Regions from separate parts of the Homo sapiens genome. Here all the other regions are reported to be linked to region 3. Evidence: microRNA targets listed by miRTarBase, many of them from high-throughput screens and not tested one by one. Region 3 holds a microRNA gene; each other region holds the end of a gene's coding sequence.
The links. Region 3 holds the annotated microRNA hsa-miR-5703 (AGGAGAAGUCGGGAAGGU, at 5,170-5,187, shown strand). A microRNA usually pairs through its seed, bases 2 to 8, with sites in the 3' UTR of a target mRNA and lowers its output. Matches are read on the target gene's strand: a 7mer-m8 pairs with bases 2 to 8, a 7mer-A1 pairs with bases 2 to 7 and ends in A, and an 8mer does both.

Region 1 (7,201 bases), not on the chromosome of region 3:
CAGAGGGAGAGGAGCATGGAGAGACCAGTCAGGGCCTTGAAGGGGACCAGAGGCAAAGAAGCTGTGTTTACAAAAGACATTTCAGACTTGGTCACAAGCAATGCTGCTTCAGGCCAATTGACATAGGACAAACAGCGTTGGAAGTCCCTTCCCACTCCTGCCCTCATTGACCCCAATTCAAGCCAGTGTGTCCCACTGGCCCCTGAAGTTCCAAGGCCACCACCTGCAGAGGACAGGGTGAGGAGAACAATAGCTACTCAAGGAGAATAGGGGAAGGGGTATGTGCAGAGAGCTCTTTAAATGAGCAAAAAATGTAAGATATTTGTGTTCCATATGAATGTTTACTAAACAATAACCTTAGCAGAGACTTTAATAAATAAGTGGATAGGATAACCTATTCTGTGGATACCAGTCAGACTCTTTGCCCAGCCTCTCCTGTCATTTCCCAATGAGCTCATGAACAAAGTGGCCATGGTGGCAGGTAAGACAGTGAAGTTGTATTGCTGCCCTTGCCAGCTGAAAACAACCTGATTCTGGTAGTCATTACTAATAGGTAAGAAGAAAAAAAATCCAGATCAATAGCTGCATAATAGGGGATATGCTAATTTGCTCAAGGAAATACCACATCTAGTACATCTGTAAATGGAGTCACCCCCTGGCTAGGCTTGTAATAATTCAGTGTATTAGTCTGCTCGAGCTGTCATAACAAAATACTATAAATTAGGTGGCTTAAATAATAGAAATTTATTTCTAGTAGTTCTGGAGGTTGGGAAGCCACCAAGGTCAAGGTGCCAGTCGATTTGTTTTCTGATGAGAGCTCCTTTTCTGGCTTACAGATGGCTACCTTCTCATATCTACAACTATCTGATCTTTGACAATCCTGACAAAATAAGAAATGGGGAAAGGATTCCCTATTTAATAAATGGTGCTGGGAAAACTGGCTAGCCATATGCGGAAAGCTGAAACTGGATCCCTTGCTTACACCTTATACAAAAATTAATTCAAGGTGGATTAAAGACTTAAATGTTAGAGATTTTTTTTTTTTTTTTTTTTTTTGACAGAGTCTCTCTCTGTCACCCAGGCTGGAGTGCAGTGTCGCAATCTCGGCTCACTACAACCTCTGCCTTCCGGGTTCAAGCAATTCTCCTGCCTCAGCCTCCTGAGTAACTGGGATTACAGGTGTGTGCCACCATGCCTGGCTAAGTTTTTGCATTTTTAGTAGAGACGGGGTTTCATTGTGTTAGCCAGGATGGTCTTGATCTCCTGACATTGTGATCTGCCCACCTCGGCCTCCCAAAGTGCTAGGCTTACAGGCATGAGCCACCACGCCCGGCCAATCTAAGCTTTTTAGAGCTCTTCAAGGATGCTGAGCCTCGCCTCACAAACATATGTTTCACAATTGTGATGAAAGGTGAATCATTTGGACCTTCCACGGTGGGTGATTTGTCATTTCATGACAAATTCATTCTAATATTCCAATCTCCCTAATGCTCTGAATCTCTTCCTCTGCAGCAAAGCAAGGCAGGCCTGTCATTTCTAGGTCACACACACTAGGCCACCTTTCAGTCCATGTTTTGACCAGCCAACCAAACAAACTCTTAGGGCCTTTTCTTACTCCCCGAACTGTAACATTGCCTAGAATCTCTGCAATCAGTTCAGCCTCATCCAATCTTTTATTCTTTCCACAATTGTTCCACACTCTTAATATCCATTCCCACATGTATTCCCTAAATGTCTGTCTGTAAACACTGTAGTTCTTTTGGAGTGTAGTGCTCCCTTGTCATGGGTCACATGTTGTACCTCACCATTGGGGACCTGCTGGGACTTCACTCTAGAAGCAAAATGAGGTGATAGGGAGGGGTCCTGAGAAGAATCATCATTGTCTTTCAAGGCAACTGCCTCACAGGAGCCCATTACAGTTTTCTTAGGAAAATCAGGGTCAGCCTCCTCAAGTGGGTGTAGAAAGGCTGCTTCTACTGGCAAAGAAGACTCAACCAAACCAAACTCAGAGGTATAGTGTTTCCATGGTCATCAGGATTTTCTCATTGGTCCTCATTCCAATTTTCAGGGTCCCATTTCTTCTTCTTCTTCTTTTTTTTTTTTTTTTTTTGAGACAGAGTCTCACTCTGTCACCCAGGCTGGAGTGCAGTGGTGAGATCTTGGCTCACGGCAACCTCTGCCTCCTGGGTTCAAGTGTTTCTCCAGCCTCCGCCTCTAGAGTAGCTGGGATTACAGGCGTGTGCCACAATGCCAGGCTAATTTTCGTATTTTTTTTTTTTAGTAGAGACAGGGTCTCACTATGTTGTCCAGGCTGGTCTCGAACTCCTGACCTCAAGTGATCCACCGACCTCCGCCTCCCAAAGTGCTGGGATTACAGGCATGAGCTACTGTGCCAGGCCCCCATTTCTTCTTAATCAGTGGCCTCACTTTAACTGTAGACATGCTGAGAATTTGGAAATTTAATTGGCATTGTAATTCAGTCATTCACTGAAAAGATTTTGGGTTTAGTTTTTAGCAGTCTCAGCTCTGAGACTACAGAAGATAAGGGTTTCTTTCAGAATAGACATAGAAACTTTCAGGTTATTTATGTGCTGCATGGTTATTTATGTGGTGCACAAACTGAGGATTCAAATCCTGGACCTCATCATTTTCTTCTCCCATCTCACTTAACACAATGAGGAGAAACCAGCCAATCTCTTTATATTCATTAGTTTGACAAAAGTATTCACAGGTAGCAAATCCATAGCCACTCAAAACCTTGTCTCTTATAAGCATTTGATTAGAAACATCCAATAGTGATATTTTGCAAATCCCTATAGCCACATTTACTATCAGTGTTCTCTTCACTATGGGAAATAGGGTTCATTAGTGCATTTAAATCTAGTTAGGCTAGAAAACAAATTCCAGAAATCCCAGAACTCATTCAGAAAACTTGTCCTTAAGATTCTATTCCTTTAGATTCTGTTATGTTTTGGTAAAGTAAGTGTGAGCAAGAAAGAGAGAAAGAGGACTATTTTGCAGCATTGGTTCAAGTGACTATCAGGGATGGAAAAACCAAAATTTGTAAGGAAGGATGGCAGGATGCAGATTCAGGGGAGAGCTGATGTTGCAGTCTCAAGTCCAAAATCATTCTGAGGGCAGATTTTGTTTTAACTTTTTATTTTCAGTTTAGGGGTACAAGTGCAGGTTTGTTACATAGGTACACTTACGCCATGGGGGTTTGTTGTACATATTATTTCATCACCAAGGTACTAAGCCTAATACCCACTAGTTATTTTTCCTGATCCTCTCCCTTCTCCCACCCTCCACCCTCTGACAGGCCCTCTATGTGTCCACGTGTTCTCATCATTTAGCTCCCACTTATAAGTGAGAACATGCAGTGTTTGTTTTTCTGTTCCTGTGTTAGTTTGCTAAGGATAATGGCCTCCAGCTCCATCCATGTCCCTGCAAAGGACATGATCTCATCCTTTTTTACAGCTGCATAGTATTCCATGGTATATAGGCACCACATTTTCTTAATCCAGTCTATCATTGATGGACATTTAGGATGATTCCGTGTCTTTGCTATTGTGAGTAGTGTTGCAATGAACATACATGTGCATGTGTTTTTATAATGGAATAGTTTATGTTTCTTTGGGTATGTACATAGCAATGGGATGGCCGGGTTGAATGGTAATTGCTGGTCTTTGAGAAATTGCCACACTGTGTTCCACAATGGCAGAACTAATTTACACTCCCACCAAGAGTGTATAAGCATTCCTTGTTCCTGGAGGCAGAATATTTTTTCCGTCTCTGGATATCAGTCTTTTCTCTTAAGACCTTTGACTGATTGGTTGAGGCCTGCCCATATTATGGAGGGCAATCTGCTTTACTCAAACTCTGCTGATTTAAATATTAGTCGCATCTAAAAAAAAAACATGTTCACAACAACATTTAGACTGGTGAATGGTGCTAGAGCAAGATCTAGGAACCATAGCCTAGCCAAGTTGACACATAAAATTAACCATCACATATGTACATATTTTTGCAAATACAATGGCAAATAAAATTCAAAAAGGCTGGGCACAGTAGCTCACACCTGTAATCCTAGCACTTTGGGAGGCTGAGGTGGGTGGATCACCTGAGGTCAGGAGTTCGAGAACCGCCTGGCCAACATGGTGAAACCCCATCTCTACCAAAAATACAAAAATTAGCAGGGCATGGTGGCAGGTACCTGTAATCCCAGCCACTTGGGACGCTGAGGTGGGAGAATCGCTTGAACCCAGGGGGCTGAGGTTGCAGTGAGCCGAGATTGTGCCACTTCACTCCAGCCTGGGCAAAAGAGTGAAACTCCATTTAAAACAAGCAAACAAAAAAAATTTCAAAAAACATGTTCAACTTTACTGATATTCAAACAAATGCAAACAAAATAAAAAAGAAATATCTTGAATTTGAGAAAGGAGACTAACAGATTTATTTACTTATTTCAAAATGACAATTATTTTAATGACTAACAAAATAGTATGTGACAGTTGGTAATAAACATATTTTGAGATGGCAATGTGAATTGGCATAACAATTCTGGATAGCAATTTGATACTTATTGAGGTGTAATGAGTTTAAATTTATAATAAGCAAATCTTTTTACACAAAAACATTGTGTTATAGGAATTTACCTGAAAGTAGAGTTATAATGTAGGAGAGATAAATGGATAAGGATGGTCATCACAGGAAATTAGATATAATAAGAGTTCAACAAGAAGAAATTGTAATGGCCTTCCTTCAAGTAGTTGTGTTGCAGGACATTGCTGATTTTGCTCAGGACCCATCCTCACCACCTCTCTTTGCTTTACATATGTACATAGACTCAGGGTATGAGATAAATATATTTTAAAAAACTATACTCAACAATACCAGCAACACTATAATAATAATAACAGTTTTGTAAAAGAACATCAATTATACTAAAAAAGTTTTGGGAAAATGTTTGAAACAAAATAGATGTTTAGGCTGGGGGCTGTGGCTCACGTCTGTAATCCTAGCACTTTGGAAGGCTGAGGTGGGCAAATAACTTGAAGTCAGGAGTTCAAGACCAACCTGGCCAACATGGTGAAACCCCATCTCTACTAAAAATACAAAAAGTAGCTGGGCGTGGTGGCACACACCTGAAATCCCAGCTACCTGGGAGGCTGAGGCAGTAGAAATGCTTCAACCCAGGAAGTGGTTGTTGCAATGAGCCGAGATGGTGCCACTGCACTGCAGCCTGAGCGACAGTGAGACTCCAACTCAAAAAAGAAGTTTAACTATTCTCTCCTTCATAAGTTTTTAATTCAAAGGAATAAATATTAAATTTGCAATAGAGAAAGCTGGCAGATCAAGTGGTCAAAGTTGTATCTCCAGGAATGGGACAATTAGACATCATGTAAGGCTTGATATCATGCTCTAAGGACAACATCACTTTTGTAGGATATTTGCAAAAATGTGTAATCTGAGCCTGGTCAAGAAGAAACATCAGAGAAACCCAAATTGAGGGGCATTCTACAAAACCAATAGTTCTTTAAAAAGGTCAATGTCAAGGAAGACAAAGAAAGACTGAAGAGCCATTTCGGTTTGGAGGAGACTGAAGAATCATGGCAACTATGTCAAGGCAATGGAGATCCTGGATTGGATTTTGAACCAACAAAATTGTCTTTTGTTATAAAGGATATTAGTAGGAAGATTGGCTAAATTTGAACAAGGTCTGTAGATACTAACATCTTGGGAGAGCCTGGAGATGAGGACAGAGTATGAAAAGCAATGAAAAAATAACAATCAGTCAAGGCAAAAAGGAATGCATATTTCTGGTTTTATTGTTTCACATCAGGCTGAGCTATGCAAAAAGACAAGCTGCAAAGGGATATAGGTCTGTGCTTTGGGCTTCCCAGAGCAACCACACATACGCAAACTGAGGTCATTAAATGGCTTGGCTTTGGGGGAGAAGTTTTGGGCCTCTGAACTCCAAGACAGAAGAATCCTCTATGCTTGAGTTGAGCCCTCACCAAGACCTCTCAACAACATGGGCAGGCCCAGAAGGAGAAGGAAGACGGAAGGGAAATATTTGGCCATTTGTGTTCTTCTAGGCTCAGGATCCACTTTAGCAGCAGCCTCCAGAGTGCTGGCCACTCCCTCCTCCACAGCAGCTGGAGCCCCCGGAGGGCTGGCTGCAGCAGCCAGAGCTCTGGGGTCTGTGGCAGTGGGACCTACGGCGCCTGTGGTGGCTCAGGCAGCAGCCACCTCCCCCAGAACTGCAGCAACCCCCAGAGCTGGAGCCACAGCTTCCCCCAGAGCTGGAGCCACAGCAGCCTCCGGAGCTGACACTGCAGCAGGAAGAGACTGGAGGACACTTAGGGGGACACTTTGGGGGGCATCTAGGGGTGAGGCACTTGGGAGGGCACTTGGGGATGCACTTGGGAGGGGGCTGGCACTGCTGCTGGTTCTGCTGGCAGGACATCTTGGTGCGGGTGTTCAGGAGCTGAGAGAGAGTCAGACAGCAAGTTAGACCCAGGTAGAGGCCACCCCGGCCTATTCTTGCCCTTTCAGCATCATTTCTAATCCCTACATTTTGATGAACTGCTTAGTGTAGTTGTAGCTAATTAATCACGGGAAGTTTCATTGTGTCTAATAGTTGGCTAAACACACTTATAGCCTCTGTTTTGAACCTAATGCTTTTTATATACTTATAAAATCATAAAGCATTTTCAACTATTTTATAATTAGAAAACCGAAGCCAAAAGATATTAAGAAAGTATTCTCAAAATCAAGCATGTAGTATGTAGAGGAGACATTCTGCTTCAACTACACACCTGAATCATGAAAACAATCTAGAAAGGGGTTTGGAAATAAAATTGTTTCTCAAGGGGAAACAGTCATTCTCTCTTGGAAGAATTTTCTAGATTACCTTGTTGTAAGGACATAGAAGTTCAGAACTGCAAAGGAAGTTGGAGGAAAAATATCATTGAATTAAGTGAGAATTGTATACAGGTTTCTGACTTAGTCCAGTGCTCTGACATTTTTCAGCAGACAAACACCTGTACTGAATGCTCAGCACTTATATTTTGTTTGTCTACCGTACTTGTCTCACCAAGTTAAATACCATTAAATGTGAGTTTAAGAGAGTCGGTTAGCTGTGATATCCTCTACACTGGCTGGGAACCACTGTTTCCATCTCATCTTTTCAGGAAAG
Region 2 (7,201 bases), not on the chromosome of region 3:
CAGCTTCTACCCACAACTGGCCAAAATTTCTCAGTAGCTCCAATTTCTCACCTTTTAAAATGAGGAAAAATTGGACTGACTAATCTTTAAGGTTCATTCAGCTCTTAAAAATTTATTATTTTTGCTTACCTGATTCCCAGACTGGGTTTTATAGCTGGCAGCTAGTGTTTGGAACATTGTCAACTTCTTTGTCCACATGATGTTTCACATTCATATATGTGGACTGTTTTGAATAGATTAATAATGCTATTGTTTCTTTGTAGTACTCACTTTAAACAAATCTTTTCTGCTTGTTTCTCACTGTATCCTTTTTATATTCATCCTGGATGCCACCTCTTTACTGCCTCTTCACCTTTTCCTCCTTCTCATTTCTATTCTTCCTTTTATCTGTTTATCTAGCATACAACTGATACTTCTCTCTTGTTATATTGTGTCTTTTTACATTCAAAGACTATAAAGTCTATAATTAATGTACATGATTTTGGCCATATTAGAAGTTTGATGTTACTATAATGTGACTGGTTTCAATAAGCTACACATTAGAAGCCATCCTTTTTTATCCTGAGCTTACACTTACAGACTGATAAATGGGATGTGCTCAGTTATAATTAGAAGAGTGTAAAGATATCAGTAATGTTTAATTTTATTTCTTTCCTACACAGAAGTTGTAAGAACAAGACTACGTGAAGAGGGAACAAAATACAGATCTTTTTTTCAGACTCTATCTTTGCTTGTTCAAGAAGAAGGTTATGGGTCTCTTTATCGTGGTCTGACAACTCATCTAGTGAGACAGATTCCAAACACAGCCATTATGATGGCCACCTATGAATTGGTGGTTTACCTACTCAATGGATAGCAGCACGAGGACTGCTGTACTGCAAAAAAAGAAGACCAAAAGATTACAGTGGACCATGGGATACAGAAGCCAGCATGGCAGACAGAAGAAAAATAGTTTGGGAACATGTAACTATTCTAAGTGGAAGTTTTGTTGTAGGAATTATAGTAATCACACCACATTACTTGGCCTTTCGGTAATGTGAAAAAAAAAAAAAACCTCAGAGCCTCCAAGGAAATGCCTTTAGAAGCACTCCTCTCTCAAAATTGCCATTTTCTCTACCATGTCCCCCAGACACAGTTGGGTTTTGTTGATTTATGGCAGTCTTCTAAACAAAGCCATCCTTAATTTTACATACTGTATTGTAACTATCCAAAGATAGTATTGGCAGTCATAAATTTATAACTTCTGGCCTTTGTTTAATTCCAGTAAAATAACAGCAATGACAATGAGATCGTCAGTATTATTTTCACATTTCCCTGAGAGGACCTGGCACAATATTTTAAATTTAATTATTTGGCAGTAGTCACTGTTTTTGACAACCAATGAAATAGCGTCTAAATATCTTGTATATTTTTTAGCATCAAAATGTTTTGGTTTCCACTGCTGACAGGTGCTTGTTGTTTAGCCTAATGTGGATATTTAAATTGTTAACATACCAAACACACATGGTAATAGTTTGGGACAAAATAACTAGTAAAATGTTGATTTCTCGGCTTTTTCACTGACTGCGGCATGTCCTCGTGTCTTCTCTGATTTTGTGGTACATGAATGAATGCATTTATCTTTTTAGTGACTTACTAGTTACGAACTTGAATTATCACCTCTTTGTCATACTTAAGTATCATTTACATAAAGTGTAAAAGATTTTTTCACTTTTGAATCTTTACCTACTTGCTTTCACATTAAGAATTTGAACTTTTGAGTTTTTTCCAGGTCTATATATAATAGATTACATTTATTTTGTAAAGAAAATAGTAATTTAAAGTTTTGCCATTTTAAGGTGACAATATTTGGGACAGTATAAATATTATAGACAAGGGCCCCCTTGCTGTCTGCTTTAGCAGGTAGTGACATTAATTGACTTATAGTTTTGTGTAAATGAACAAACTGCTTTTGACAAGAAATTTATTCTGTCCTAGTTTCCTGCGTGGTAAATCATAGAAAGATTCAAGTTCATTTGGGTTAAATGTGCTAATAGGATGTAGCTTTTAAATTCTGCTATTGAGTCAGCTGTACCTTTTAATACTTTAAATGTGTTATTTGTATGGCCCTTATAAAGGTGTTTGCTGTAATTCTGTTAAAAGACTTCGCCTATGCCATACTGGTGTATAAAAACTGCCGCAATTGGACGCCGGTGTGGTACTCATTTCAGTATACCTGAACTGTACATTTTGTGCAATGGCTTTATCTAAAAGAATGACGCTTCGTGAAAGCACTTTGTGGCCTTTTTTGGGGGGGAGGGTGAGAGAGTAGGAGAGAATACCATGTTAAGATTAAAAAAAAAAACAAAAACATTGGTCACGTATTAGGCAGAAACAGTGTTCATAACATTTTTCTGGGTTTTAAATATGTTGTTTCGGATATCCTTAATATAAATGTTTTAGGTATTCTGTGTACCCTGTCGTACCCCCAACATTATAGAATATTGCAGCGTGTCATTGCAAGCTTTCTCTGCTGTCACCAGTGAAACATAGTGCCCTGTTAAATTCCCCCACTTTAACTTCCTTGTGATCAACAGTAACTGGATGTTTTTGAGGTGCTCAATTGGAATAAAAATATTCCAATCTATTTGGAGACCAAAGGCAAAATCAGTTTTCTTACCTTTGGAATTATTCGTACCTTTTATGGTAAATTTCAGCTTTGACATGTATTATGAGGAACGTACCAAAAACCGGTTTGTAACAAATCTGTAGAGAAGGTCTGAATCTATCGTGTTTGCCTTTTCAGGTGCCATTTCTACTGCCTAATACAGTGCCATTTGCCTTGTGAAGACCCATAAACATTCATTGTGTTGAATGTAAGATAGAGACTCTCCCTAGTCTTACTGATCTCAGTACCCCACAAATGATTAAGAATGATATGAAAACCAGCAGCTAAGGAACATCTTATTATTTAGTTGTAGCATATTCATAACAAGTGTCCTTCAAGGATAAACATATATTCTCTATTTGTATTTAGCAAGTAAAACTTGTGTTGACCTTTAGTGCATTATATTCAGCTTTTAACAGTATTATGTATGTACTGGAAAGCAAAGAAATCTTAGAGTCTTGGACATTGTTTATTTGTGCAACAACTAGAAAGGAGCAATGAAGTTTATTTCAGTTGTATTTTTCCCTAAGCACAATCTGCAATAGTTTATGTATGACAGAGATAATTCAAAAAGGAAAACTATATATAAAAGTTGTATATAAAGTTTGTCTCTGAAATATTTCTTTGAAGTTTTTAAAAAATCGACTCATGTTTAAAAACAAAAACACATATTCAGAGCATTGGACTTTTTTAACTTGTTTTCATCTGTTTATCATGACTTTTTTATTTCTGGTGTAGAGTCCACATTATTTAGTTTGTTGTACTTTTAAATTTCAAAGTTCAAATCTGAAGAATTAGCGTTTGTGATTTCGGGATACCATGCAGTGGTTTTAATCCCAGGAAAAAAACTATCACCAAAAGTTCGTTTGATTCTCATTATGTAACTTTGTAGAACCATCCTTTCTAGATGGGTCCACCACAGTGAATTTGTAACTTTGAAGTCAGGATAGAATATCATTAGATTATCTGTGAGATAGCATTACTATGTTAGGACCAGCAGAGTTTGGGTTGGTAAAAATAATGTTTGCTCTATTACTGGGTTACAGACATTTCAGCATTTTTAGGTTGGTTTTAAATCACTAAAAATATTTATTCGGATTTGAAGGATTTAAGTGCTAAAAATCAATCCATTTCTTGCCCTTCAATAATTGTCCATGCCTGCCTTTTGTTGTTTACATGCTCTTCTGCCCAGACTGTTAGTAATCTAGGGACCCCCTTTGGAGCTGATAAGTACAGTTCAGCCTTTTCTCCTCAAATATATAATGACTTTAACATTCCTAAGAATATAGGTATTTCTGAATGATTTAAATTTGAGGAATTTTAATACATAAAATACAATGTACAAACTTTCTGCCCACTCAGATCTCTTCTCCATCATGTACTTAGTATTTCCCATTAACCTACACACTGATTTTTATGCTACTCCTTGTAGAAACAAAATTCTGGTTTGACTCAGTTTTTGTGTTTATAAACTTTTGGAATGTGTACCCCGTTTATGTGAAGAATTATGACCTATCAGTCATAGCTAAATAGTGAACCTCAAAAGTGTTAACTTTTGACTATTCATGTGAGGTTTGGTATCTTGCATTTATGTACATGGCTGTAAATTATGTGCATTTACTCTGTATTTATGTTATCTAGCTGACTTTTACTTGAATTGTTCAAATTTTAAAAATTAAAATACGCTCATGAAAATATGGCTTTTTCTGTAATATATCAACATTTTATTGAGAACATAATCACACTTTTTTGGATTATCCTATGTGTGGAACAAAAATCCATTGCCATTTTCAGGTTAAGTTTTAGGCTCGCTTGATTCAGTCAGCAAACCTTATCTTGAGCACTTTGTATCTGTTAGATCTAGTGATGTCTGAAGGAACCCAAAGGTCAAGTAATCCAACTCCCTCATAGTGTACAAAGAAATCTTGCATATCTTCCACAGGTTTATTGACTTTTATCCAACACTTTTCATGTTTTAATTTCAGCCTTTGTGAAAGTTGATATTAAAAATACAGAGGTGAGAACTTGTTAGAATAACCAAATGAATCCACATAATGTTAGATCAAAATACAAATGACAAAGATAAAATGCTATGTAGTGCCTACCCTCTTTACATTTTGTCTATTTTATTTAAGTTTTTCTGTATTGTAGTTAACATCAAACATTGTCCAGTCTTGAGGAAACCAGGACGAAATATATTTTGTATTTCAACATTGACATAAATCTGAAATTGTTGGTTCTACTAATAGTACTCTGCACTGAAGGCACTGGCAAAATAATGGTTAAAATTGAGCACAGGTGTTCCAAGTTGTGTGTGTGTGTTTATTACTGAACATTGGGAGCCGTGATAGGGAAGTAATTTGTGAGTTCATGATTTCTTAAGGTTCTAGTGTGACATTTATACACTGATAAAACTCAGGCAAGCAAAATGTAATTAAATGTTCCCCCTGCCCCCCCCCCCTTTTAATATATATACACGGAGCTTCACTCTTGTCACCCATGCTGGAGTGCAATGACATGATCTCAGGTCACTGCAACCTCTGCCTCCCGGGTTCAAGCGATTCTGCCTCAGCCTGACTTCCCTTCTGTTTCTTTATTTTCGCACTGTGTAGACCAGCTGACTGCCTTAATATGTATTGAATCAATTCAAGATTTATGTTCATAGAGTGCTGTGTTTATACAGTGGTGTCATGTGATTTCTTAATAGCCTATAGATCCAATAAATACAGAGGAATATTAGTTACAACTGGAGTTTTTGACTTGAGTGCTCTGAATCTTAGTCCTGTGTTTTTTTATTTACTACACTAGGTTATTCACCAGCACTTGACAATAGATAGATGTTTTAGAAACTTCGTTCTAAAGGAAAGATGGATAGAAGTTGGCTCTGAATGAAACATTAGGAAGTAATCAGGAACAGAGTTGAATACATAAGAACAGTATGAACTGTCTAGAAGCTAACGTATATAGACCTTAGGTTACATCCTGAGGCCAGTGGAGAACCTCTCAAGGTTTTTTTCTCCCAAAGAATGATTAGCAACATCCTAGAAAGCCAGACTTAACAGATACTAGTTTGTCTTATGTAAGTTGCTCTTAATTAATACTGTCTTTGAGCCTCGGGAGTGTCAGAAGGTGATCTGTGTTCTCTGAAAGTAGTAATTCTTTTAGCAAAATCTTGGTTGCATGGAGAAAATGGCATTTTAACTAGGCTTTGAAACAGATAAAAAATTTTACAGGCTGACATGGGGAGGGGCATTCTTTGTTAAAGGTCAAAGTGTTTTAGCCCAAGTTAGGAAAAATAACCCATTTTCTTTTGTTCTTATCTCCTAGGAATTGACTCAAAAGGTGTAAATGTCTTGAGATTTTAAAACCAGGGGTAGACCAGGATTCCAAACCTAATGTAACTCAGGAGCTTATCAAATCCAACCAAACAATTTAGTACTAGACCTCTGATTTTCTGTTTCCCAGTCCCCTCCCTGCTCTTCCAATGCACTGTAGAATTCCTCCTTGAGTCATTGTCAAGGATAAATAGCCCTAACATTCTTCAGCCATTACTTCTGAATCTTACCTTTTAAGGTTCTCCAATATGATCGATCTCCTTAGTATGAGCTTAAGTGTTTTAGTGGCCCAGACTATTTGATCTATACCTTCCTAAATTAGATACTGATTTTTAGGGTTTTTTGTTGTTTTCCTAACTTGGAAAAATTGTGCTGGAGCAACTGGACATCAATATGAATTAAAATGAAGCATTATTTCACTTCGATGATCCAATCATCTCCCACCAGAACCCCCACTTCCAAAATTGGAGATTACATTTCAATATGAGATTTGGGCAGGGACACACATCCGAACTGTCACTGTACATTTAAGATTTGTTCATGTTAAGCATTTTTAACCTAATGCAAAATAAAAGCATAAACTAGATACTTATCTCTTTAAAATACTTTACCCAAAAGACAGCAAAGAGATAAGAAGAGGACTATATGGAAGAAAAGTTAGGTATCATGGAGAATGGGATAAGTATGTCTAATGTACTTCTGATCGGAGTTCCAGAGTAAGCAGAGAGGATGGAGAAGAGACAATATTTTAAAAGGTAATTGGAGGCCAGGCACGGTGGCTCACGCCTGTAATCCCAACACTTTGGGAGGCCGAGGCGGGCGGATCACTTGAGGTCAGGAGTTCGAGACCAGCCTGGCCAACATGGTGAAACCCTGTCTCTACTAAAAATACAAAAACTAGTTGGGTGTGGTGGCGGGCCCCTGTAATCCCAGCTACTGGGGAGGCTGAGGCAGGAGAATCACTTGACCCCAGGAGGCGGAGGTTGCAGTGAGCCGAGATTGCACCACTGCACTCCAGCCAAGGCGGCAAAGGGAGACTACTTCTCAAAAAAAAAAAAAAAATGATTGGAAAACTCCCAGCGTTGATGATAAACATGAATCCATAGCTCCATGAATCACAATGCATTCTAAATAAGATTAAAACATGCCTATAAACATTGTAGTGAAATGGAAGAATATCAAAACAAAGTGAAGATACTGATTTCTGCTACCTAGATGA
Region 3 (7,201 bases):
GGAAAGGATCTCTGAAAAACAGATATTAAGCTGGATCTGTTATGGTTGAGAAGGGAAAGTGGAGATGGAAGACCATTTTTACCAACAAAAATAGTGTGTGCAAAGGCCCTGTGGTGGGAGCCAGGAGAATGTAAAGAACTGAGAGGAAGTAGGGCTGGAGCAGAGTGGTGGGGACTTAGAATGGTGCCCAAGGCACTGGGGCACGGGGCAGAGGCCAGGGGGCGGCGGAGGGCAGGTGGGCGCTGCTGGGGGATGCTGGGCTAGGCTGGGAGAGACCTAGGGTGAGCAGGAAGGAGGCTGCCTGTGCAGGGCGTCTGAGCCTCTGAGGTTTTCTTTCATCCTAAGAGCAATGCAAAAGCTTAAGTAGGGGGAGGGAACTGGGGACATCTGAATCACATTTGGATTTTGAAGAGATTACTCTGGCTGCAGTGTTAACATCTCTAAAGGTAATTTCTGCTTTGCAAGTCCAATAAGCAGGATCAGTCTTCAGTCACTGGAAGCAGAAGCTGGTGCCTTGGCAGCCAGATCTGGGTTTGAATCCTGGCTTCATGCCTCACTTCTGGCATGGCCTTGGGCAGGCCAGCCTTTCAGAGCCTTAGTTTCCTCATATATAAAACAGCGGTAATAATACCTCTTTCTGCGTTGTTATGAAAGTTACGGAAATTAAAGTAAATAAGTAGTCTTGCTTGATACACAGCAAACTCTCCTTGGGATATTTTAAAGTAGAAACCAACTTTGATACTATGTATGGCATGAAACAGCTAACATCCAAAAGGGTTGTATAAACTTTCAGCTTGAGGAAAACATTCGCCTTCCTACAGGTCTATAGTTTGGAAATACTGCACCTACATTTGTCTCTCTCTCTCTCTTTTTTTTTTTTGAGACAGGGTCTCGCTCTGTCACTCAGCCTGCAGTGCGGTAGCACTCGCTCTGTCACTCAGCCTGCAGTGCGGTAGCACGACCATGGCTCACAGCAGCCTCAACCTGCTGGGCTCAGGCAATCCTCTGGCTTTAGCCACCTGAGTAGCTGGAACTATAGGCACATGCCACCACACTCAGCTAATCAATTTTTTTTTTCTTTTTGTAGAGACAAGGTCTTACTATGTTGCCCAGGCTGGTCTTAAACTCCTGGGCTTAAGCAATCCTCCTGCCTTGGCCTCCCAAAGTGCTGGGATTACAGGCATGAGCCACTGTGCCCAGCCTTACTCCTGTCTCTTTAAAACAACTAAAACACAATAATCAACCAACCACTCATTCCACTGTTTGCATACATAAGGTGCTACAGCCATGCCTTCTGATTTTGGAATTTATCAGATGATAGACCATGGAGAGATGAGCAACCAGAGAACAAACAAATGACAAAGGAGCACTGCAAATATAGAAACAAATAAGCCACTGGCTGTGGCGTGAGGGCATTTGTTGGTTATGAATAAGAGACTGCTGGGTGTCATATTTAGCCAGCATGGGGCTGGTCAGTAAGCCTTCTGTTTGGATCAGTCAAGAATTCAACATTGCTTTCATCTCTTGAATGGCCCGGGGCCCTGTCAGAATATAACTCCAGGGCCAGTCTCAATGGCTCATGCCTATAATCCCAGCACTTTGGGAGGCTGAGGCTGGTGGATCACTTGAGGTCAAAAGTTGGAGACCAGCCTGGCCAACATGCTGAAACCTCATCTCTCCTAAAAATACAAAAATTAGTCGGGTGTGGTGTCGGGGGCATCTGTAATCCCCGTTACTTGGGAGGCCAAGGCAGGAGAATCACTTGAATACAGGAGACAGGGCTGAGATTGCACCACTGCACTCCAGCTTGGGCAACAGAGTGAGACTCCATCTCAACAACAACAACAAAAACTTCAGTTGACTTCAGGATTAAGTCAAGGGTCTTGTCAAAATACTCAAAAGCCAGCTTTCAGTGGTTCCCACTGGCCAATGATGAGACAATGTGAGCACTGGGGATGTAAAATATATTAAATACATTTAAATCCTTGAGTTTGTAATAGCACTTTAAAAATATTGATCGCCTAGCCTGGGCAACATAGCGACAGCTTGTCTCTACAACAAATACAAAAGTTAGCCGGGAGTGGTGGTCCTAGCTTCTTGAGGGGGTGTGCCGAGGCAGGAGGAACACTTGAGCCCAGGAGTTCGAGGCTGTAGTGAGCTATGATTGTACCATTGTACTCCAGCCTGGGTGACTGAGTGAGACCCTGTCTCCAAAATATAAATATAGATATATCTATATATCTCTGTCTATATATATTGATCACCACTGGAAGGTGAAATGAAGCCAATACATTATTTTGAAAATTTGTGAATAAAGGAAAGGAATCAAATATTTATCCTGCCTTTCTGACATGTACTATACCAAATAAAATGGTAGATGAGGGGAAATTTTTTCTTTATAGAAAATTTGAGCTGATAAATGAAGGAATGGTAGAATTAGTTTTATTTATTTATTTATTTTTATTTTTTATTTTTTTGAGACAGAGTCTCATTCTGTCACCCAGGCTGGAGTGCAGTGGTGGGATCTCAGCTCACTGCAACCTCCACCTCCTGGGTTCAAGCAATTCTCCTGCCCCAGCCTCCCGAGTAGCTGGGATTACAGGTGCCTGCCACCATGCTCAGCTAATTTTTGTATTTTTAGTAGAGACGGGGTTTCGCCATGTTGGCCAGGCTGGTCTCGAACTCCTGACCTTAGATGATCCTCCTGCCCCAGCCTCCCAAAGTTGCTGGGATTACAGGCGTGAGTCACCGCACCCAGCCAGAATGGCAGAATTAGAATATCAGTATTTTCTAATCATTAATGAATTAATGAATCTAGACATTAATCATCAATGGTTACCAACATCATGAAAAAGATATCCTCTCCTCAATTATGTCCCTCTTGATGGAAGAACACAATGAAATGAATGCCTGCCCCGCAAAAATACTGAACTGGATACTAGTGAACTAGATCTAACTACCAATTTTTAGGAAATAGAACAGAGGGACATGTTAAATGATACAGATTATGAGAAACTCTACAGAATAAAGTGCCCAATTACTAAAACAAATGAATTATAATTAAAAAAAAAGAGATGGTGGAGAGACCCAAAGAAACCTTATGAGACATATTACCCAGTTGCAAGGAGTGGGTTCAAACAAACTGTAAAAATCTCATTAAAATATTGATAATTGCCAACTTAAACACTAGTGCGATATTTGATGATCTTTAGGAGTTATTAACTTTTTTTTTTTTGAGGCGGAGTCTTGCTCTATTGCCCAGGTTGGAGTGCAGTGGCACAATCTTGGCTCACTGCCACCTCTGCCTCCCAGGTTCAAGTGATTCTCCTGCCTCAGCTTCCCAAGTAGCTGGGACTACAAGTGCATGCCACCATGCCTGGCTAATTTTCATATTTTTAGTAGAGACCCGGTTTCGCCATGTAGGCCAGGCTGGTCCTGAACTCCTGACCTCAGGTAATCCACCTGCCTTGGCCTCCCACAGTGCTGGGATTACAGGTGTGCGCCATCGTGCCCAGCCTATTGTTAACTTTTTAGATATGCTAACGGTATCATGGCTAAGTTTGAAAGAGATAAAGTTTTTATTTTTTAGGGATACAAATGGAACTATGTACCATTTAGATGAATGGTACGAAACCTAGAATTTGCTTTAAAATAATAGGAGAGGGGATGGAGGGTTGAGGTATTTATAAAGCAAGATTAGCCATGGGCTTAATCATTGCTGAAAGTGGTCCATGGGCTCATGGTAGTTTGATATTTTCCATAATAGAAAAGTTTAAAAACATTCATTGGCCAATCTATCTGTCCATTTCTTTTAATATTAAAAACATTAATTATTATTAGTAGTATTATATTAATATGAAGTCTCACTTTGTTGATTCACCCAATCCCTTTCATGAGAGATGTGGAGGTTGGTCTTGGCTGTTAGGAAACGTAGATTCTAATCCATTCAACAGCCCAGTGATTTGAGAACTTCAGCTCTCTGGGTCTCCCTGTACTCCTTTGGAAAACGAGAGACGAAGTTGATTGTTGCAGTGGGGATTTGGGTCCTGCAGTCTGGCTGTCTGGGTTGGAATTGAGCTTCGCCATAGGTACCCTTGGGTAAATTTACTTAATCCCTCAGGGTTTCATCTTCCTGTTTTGTAAAATGTAAATAACAATAACGCTCACCTCGAAGGGTTGTTGTGAAGATTACATGAACGATTTCATGTATTCATTCCGTCAACATTGAACACCTAGTCTCCAGCTCTGCGAGGGGAATGGGGTGGAGTGGCACAGAAAATACGGGGGCCAGGCTGTTTAGCGCCTAAAGGGAGAGTCCAGATCACCCATGGTAAACACGAAATAAGATGCAGTATTTCAAATAGCTAGAACTGAGACGAAAATACAACGCAGCAATTTGATGGAGAGCAACTTCGAGAAAGGTGAGCTGCAACATTAACTCGGCTGATCTGGGACAGTCTGGCGGGGGAGGTGACATCTGAGCCCCACCTGACTTAGAGGATGTCAGCTATGGATGATCCGGGTTTCCACACGCAGCAGTTCTCAAGCCAGGTGACTGCACCGCCCTAAAGTTCCCTCCACTTTTGGCAATGTCTGGGGATTTTTGGTTGCCAGCAATGGGAATTGGGGGGTTTGTTCTTGTATCTAGTGGGTATAGGCTAGGAACGCCGCCCAGTATCCTACAGTGCACAGGACACCCCAAGCCCCCCCAAATTAGCTGGCCCAAAGATAAAGAGAGAAGAGCAAGGGCAAAGGTCCTGCAGGAGTCAGAAAGGAGCTTGCTGTGTTCAGAAAACTCAAAATCCAGTGTGGCTGAGTGAGGACGACGAAGAATGAGGTAGACTGGGCTAGACTATGGAGCACTTTTTACGGCACGGTGAGGAATTTGGAATTATACTCAAAGCAGTGGAAAGCCCTTGAAGAGTTTTAAACAGAAGGGGAAGGTAACCCATGTGAAACGCTTTGCATATATAAGCGCTCAATAAATACTGTCTATTATTAATATTATTATCACCATTGTGTCTACCCTACTTGGCTCCAGACCCGGCCCATGCCTCAGCGAGGCCGCAGTGACTCCTCCTGGCCAGCAGAGGGCGCCAGCGGACACTTGGCTACCGGCCGCCCAGGGCGGGCCTCCTCTTGCCGTCCCCTTCCTCGTCTTTTCCCCTCAGGAGAAGTCGGGAAGGTGGCGGCGGCGGCGGCGGTTGTCCCGGCTGTGCCGGTTGGTGTGGCCCGTCAGCCCGCGTACCACAGCGCCCGGGCCGCGTCGAGCCCAGTACAGCCAAGCCGCTGCGGCCGGGTCCGGCGCGGGCGGCGCGCGCAGACGGAGGGCGGCGGCCGCGGCCAGGGCGGCCCGTGGGACCGCGGGCCCCCGGCGCAGCGCTGCCCGGCTCCCGGCCCTGCCGGCCTCCTCCCTTGGCGCCGCGGCCATGGCGGCCAGCGCGAAGCGGAAGCAGGAGGAGAAGCACCTGAAGATGCTGCGGGACATGACCGGCCTCCCGCACAACCGAAAGTGCTTCGACTGCGACCAGCGCGGCCCCACCTACGTTAACATGACGGTCGGCTCCTTCGTGTGTACCTCCTGCTCCGGCAGCCTGTGAGTGCGGGGCGGCCGGGCGGGTGTCGGGCCCTTCCCGGGAGGTGGGGGAGCGGGCGGCGGGACCGGGACCCTTCCGGGGCTGGGAAAGAGCCGGGTGCCGTGGGAGGCGGTCGGGGGCGGCCGTTGGGCGCCGGCTGGCGGGCGCGGCGTGGGAGGCTGCGGGCTGGATGCGCAGGGCCCGGGCAGCCGGGCTGGGGATGCGTTTTCGGTTTTGCCGGGCGAGGGTTTACGTTCTGGGCAGCCTTCGTGGGTGGGACGTGGGCGGGGTTGGGGTCAGGGAGGGGGCGACCGGGGCGAGCGTCCCTGGTCTCCGTCGAGCCTGCGGCCGCCGCCCTCGCTCTCCAGCTACCCGGGGCGCCGGGCTGTGGGGGGTGGGGGAAGACGCTAGGAGGCCGGGGGGGAGGTCCATGCGGGTCCTTTGTGTGCCCCGCCTCTCAGCGGCCCGGGAGCCGCGGTGCGGAGCGAGGCACCTGCTGGGCGCTCCTGCTGGGGGTCGGGGAGAAGCTGGGGTGGGAGGGAGGGACGCCTGCCTCGCCCGTGCCTTTTTTCTGGGTCGAGAGTACCTACGTAACTGGGAGGAAGCAGGCACTTAGGAATAGTAGCAGGATGAAAGCATCTTGATGGCAGATGTGAATCCCCTGGGAAAAGTTCGAAAGGATTAATTGCGGGAGGGGGAGGCAGAGGAGCAGATTTGAAGCTGTGGGATTTTAGTTTTATGGTCCGAAGAGAGTGTTGAGGAGTTGGGGGAAAGTTTTAATGGCAATAAGGTACCCACTAGGAGCTGTGTGATTCTAAATATGATGGAGTTATCTGTGAGATTTATCTGTATCTCGCTATCAATACCCGAGTGCCCTGGCTGTACACAGAAATGAGGAGAGCTAGCAAGTCACCATGATTTCAGAAAGACACTACCGTCCTGAGTTACTGGGATGATTTGTGTTTGTTGTTCTTTGCTTCATTAAGCTTTATTTTGATAAAGATTTTTATTGCCGTGCAATTTCATTCGGAAAATTTGCAGGTGGTTTTGGAATTGATAAAATGCTTTTATATTATTATCTTGTATTTAAAGTTACTAACAACGTGGCAGTTACTAAGTATTTTTAAAACCTTTGCTTGTAAGATTAATACAAAGCACATAATACTTTATGTGGGAAAATTGATTTCTTAAAACTTAGAAAATGCAGAACATGTCTAGTATGTACTATTTGCTTTTTAAAGTTGGGCAAAGAGGCATTATTAGTATTACATGAGTGTTATTTCTTCAGCAGACATTTTTTTTGGTGCCTATTAGGTTGTGTAAGGCCCTGGGGTGTGCCAGTAAATATAGCAAAGTCTTGTTCTCTTGGTTCTTACAGTCCAGTGGGGATGCAAAAGTAAGAAAAATGTCTTGGGCAAGTACTATGCTGAACATGAAAATTGTTTGATAGGAGAGTGCTCATGGTTACTTTTAGGCTGTGTGGCCAGGGAGACACTCTGAGAAGTTGCCAGTTAATAATATTCTCGAATTACTACAGAATCACAGAGCTAGGTGATATCAAGGAGGTAGCCTGGTTCATGCATTTCATTTACAGAAAAAGGAGTTAAGCTAGAAAGTTGTTACTT

Region 1: miRTarBase lists LCE1B as a target of hsa-miR-5703. Seed matches in the 3' UTR shown: 7mer-m8 at 6,051-6,057 and 7mer-m8 at 5,953-5,959.
Region 2: miRTarBase lists SLC25A36 as a target of hsa-miR-5703. Seed matches in the 3' UTR shown: 8mer at 4,014-4,021.

What each region holds. Positions count from the first base shown.
Region 1 is chr1:152,811,715-152,818,915 of GRCh38, reverse strand. LCE1B (late cornified envelope 1B) reads right to left here and starts at 6,945. Exons shown (of 1, transcript NM_178349.2): 1 at 5,808-6,945. The coding sequence starts at 6,469. The coding sequence ends at 6,113.
Region 2 is chr3:140,975,598-140,982,798 of GRCh38, forward strand. It overlaps SLC25A36 (solute carrier family 25 member 36), which reads left to right. Exons shown (of 7, transcript NM_001104647.3): 7 at 663-5,398. The coding sequence ends at 856. Among named protein-coding and RNA genes, the nearest start is that of SLC25A36, 37 kb to the left of the region's middle.
Region 3 is chr2:227,466,993-227,474,193 of GRCh38, forward strand. MIR5703 (microRNA 5703) reads left to right here and starts at 5,140; the gene lies at 5,140-5,195. AGFG1 (ArfGAP with FG repeats 1) reads left to right here and starts at 5,164. Exons shown (of 13, transcript NM_004504.5): 1 at 5,164-5,596. The coding sequence starts at 5,430. It overlaps LOC124907994 (a long non-coding RNA gene), which reads right to left and starts at 5,107. Exons shown (of 2, transcript XR_007088114.1): 1 at 4,168-5,107; 2 at 3,796-3,997. RefSeq lists an enhancer at 4,077-5,040 and a silencer at 5,153-5,872.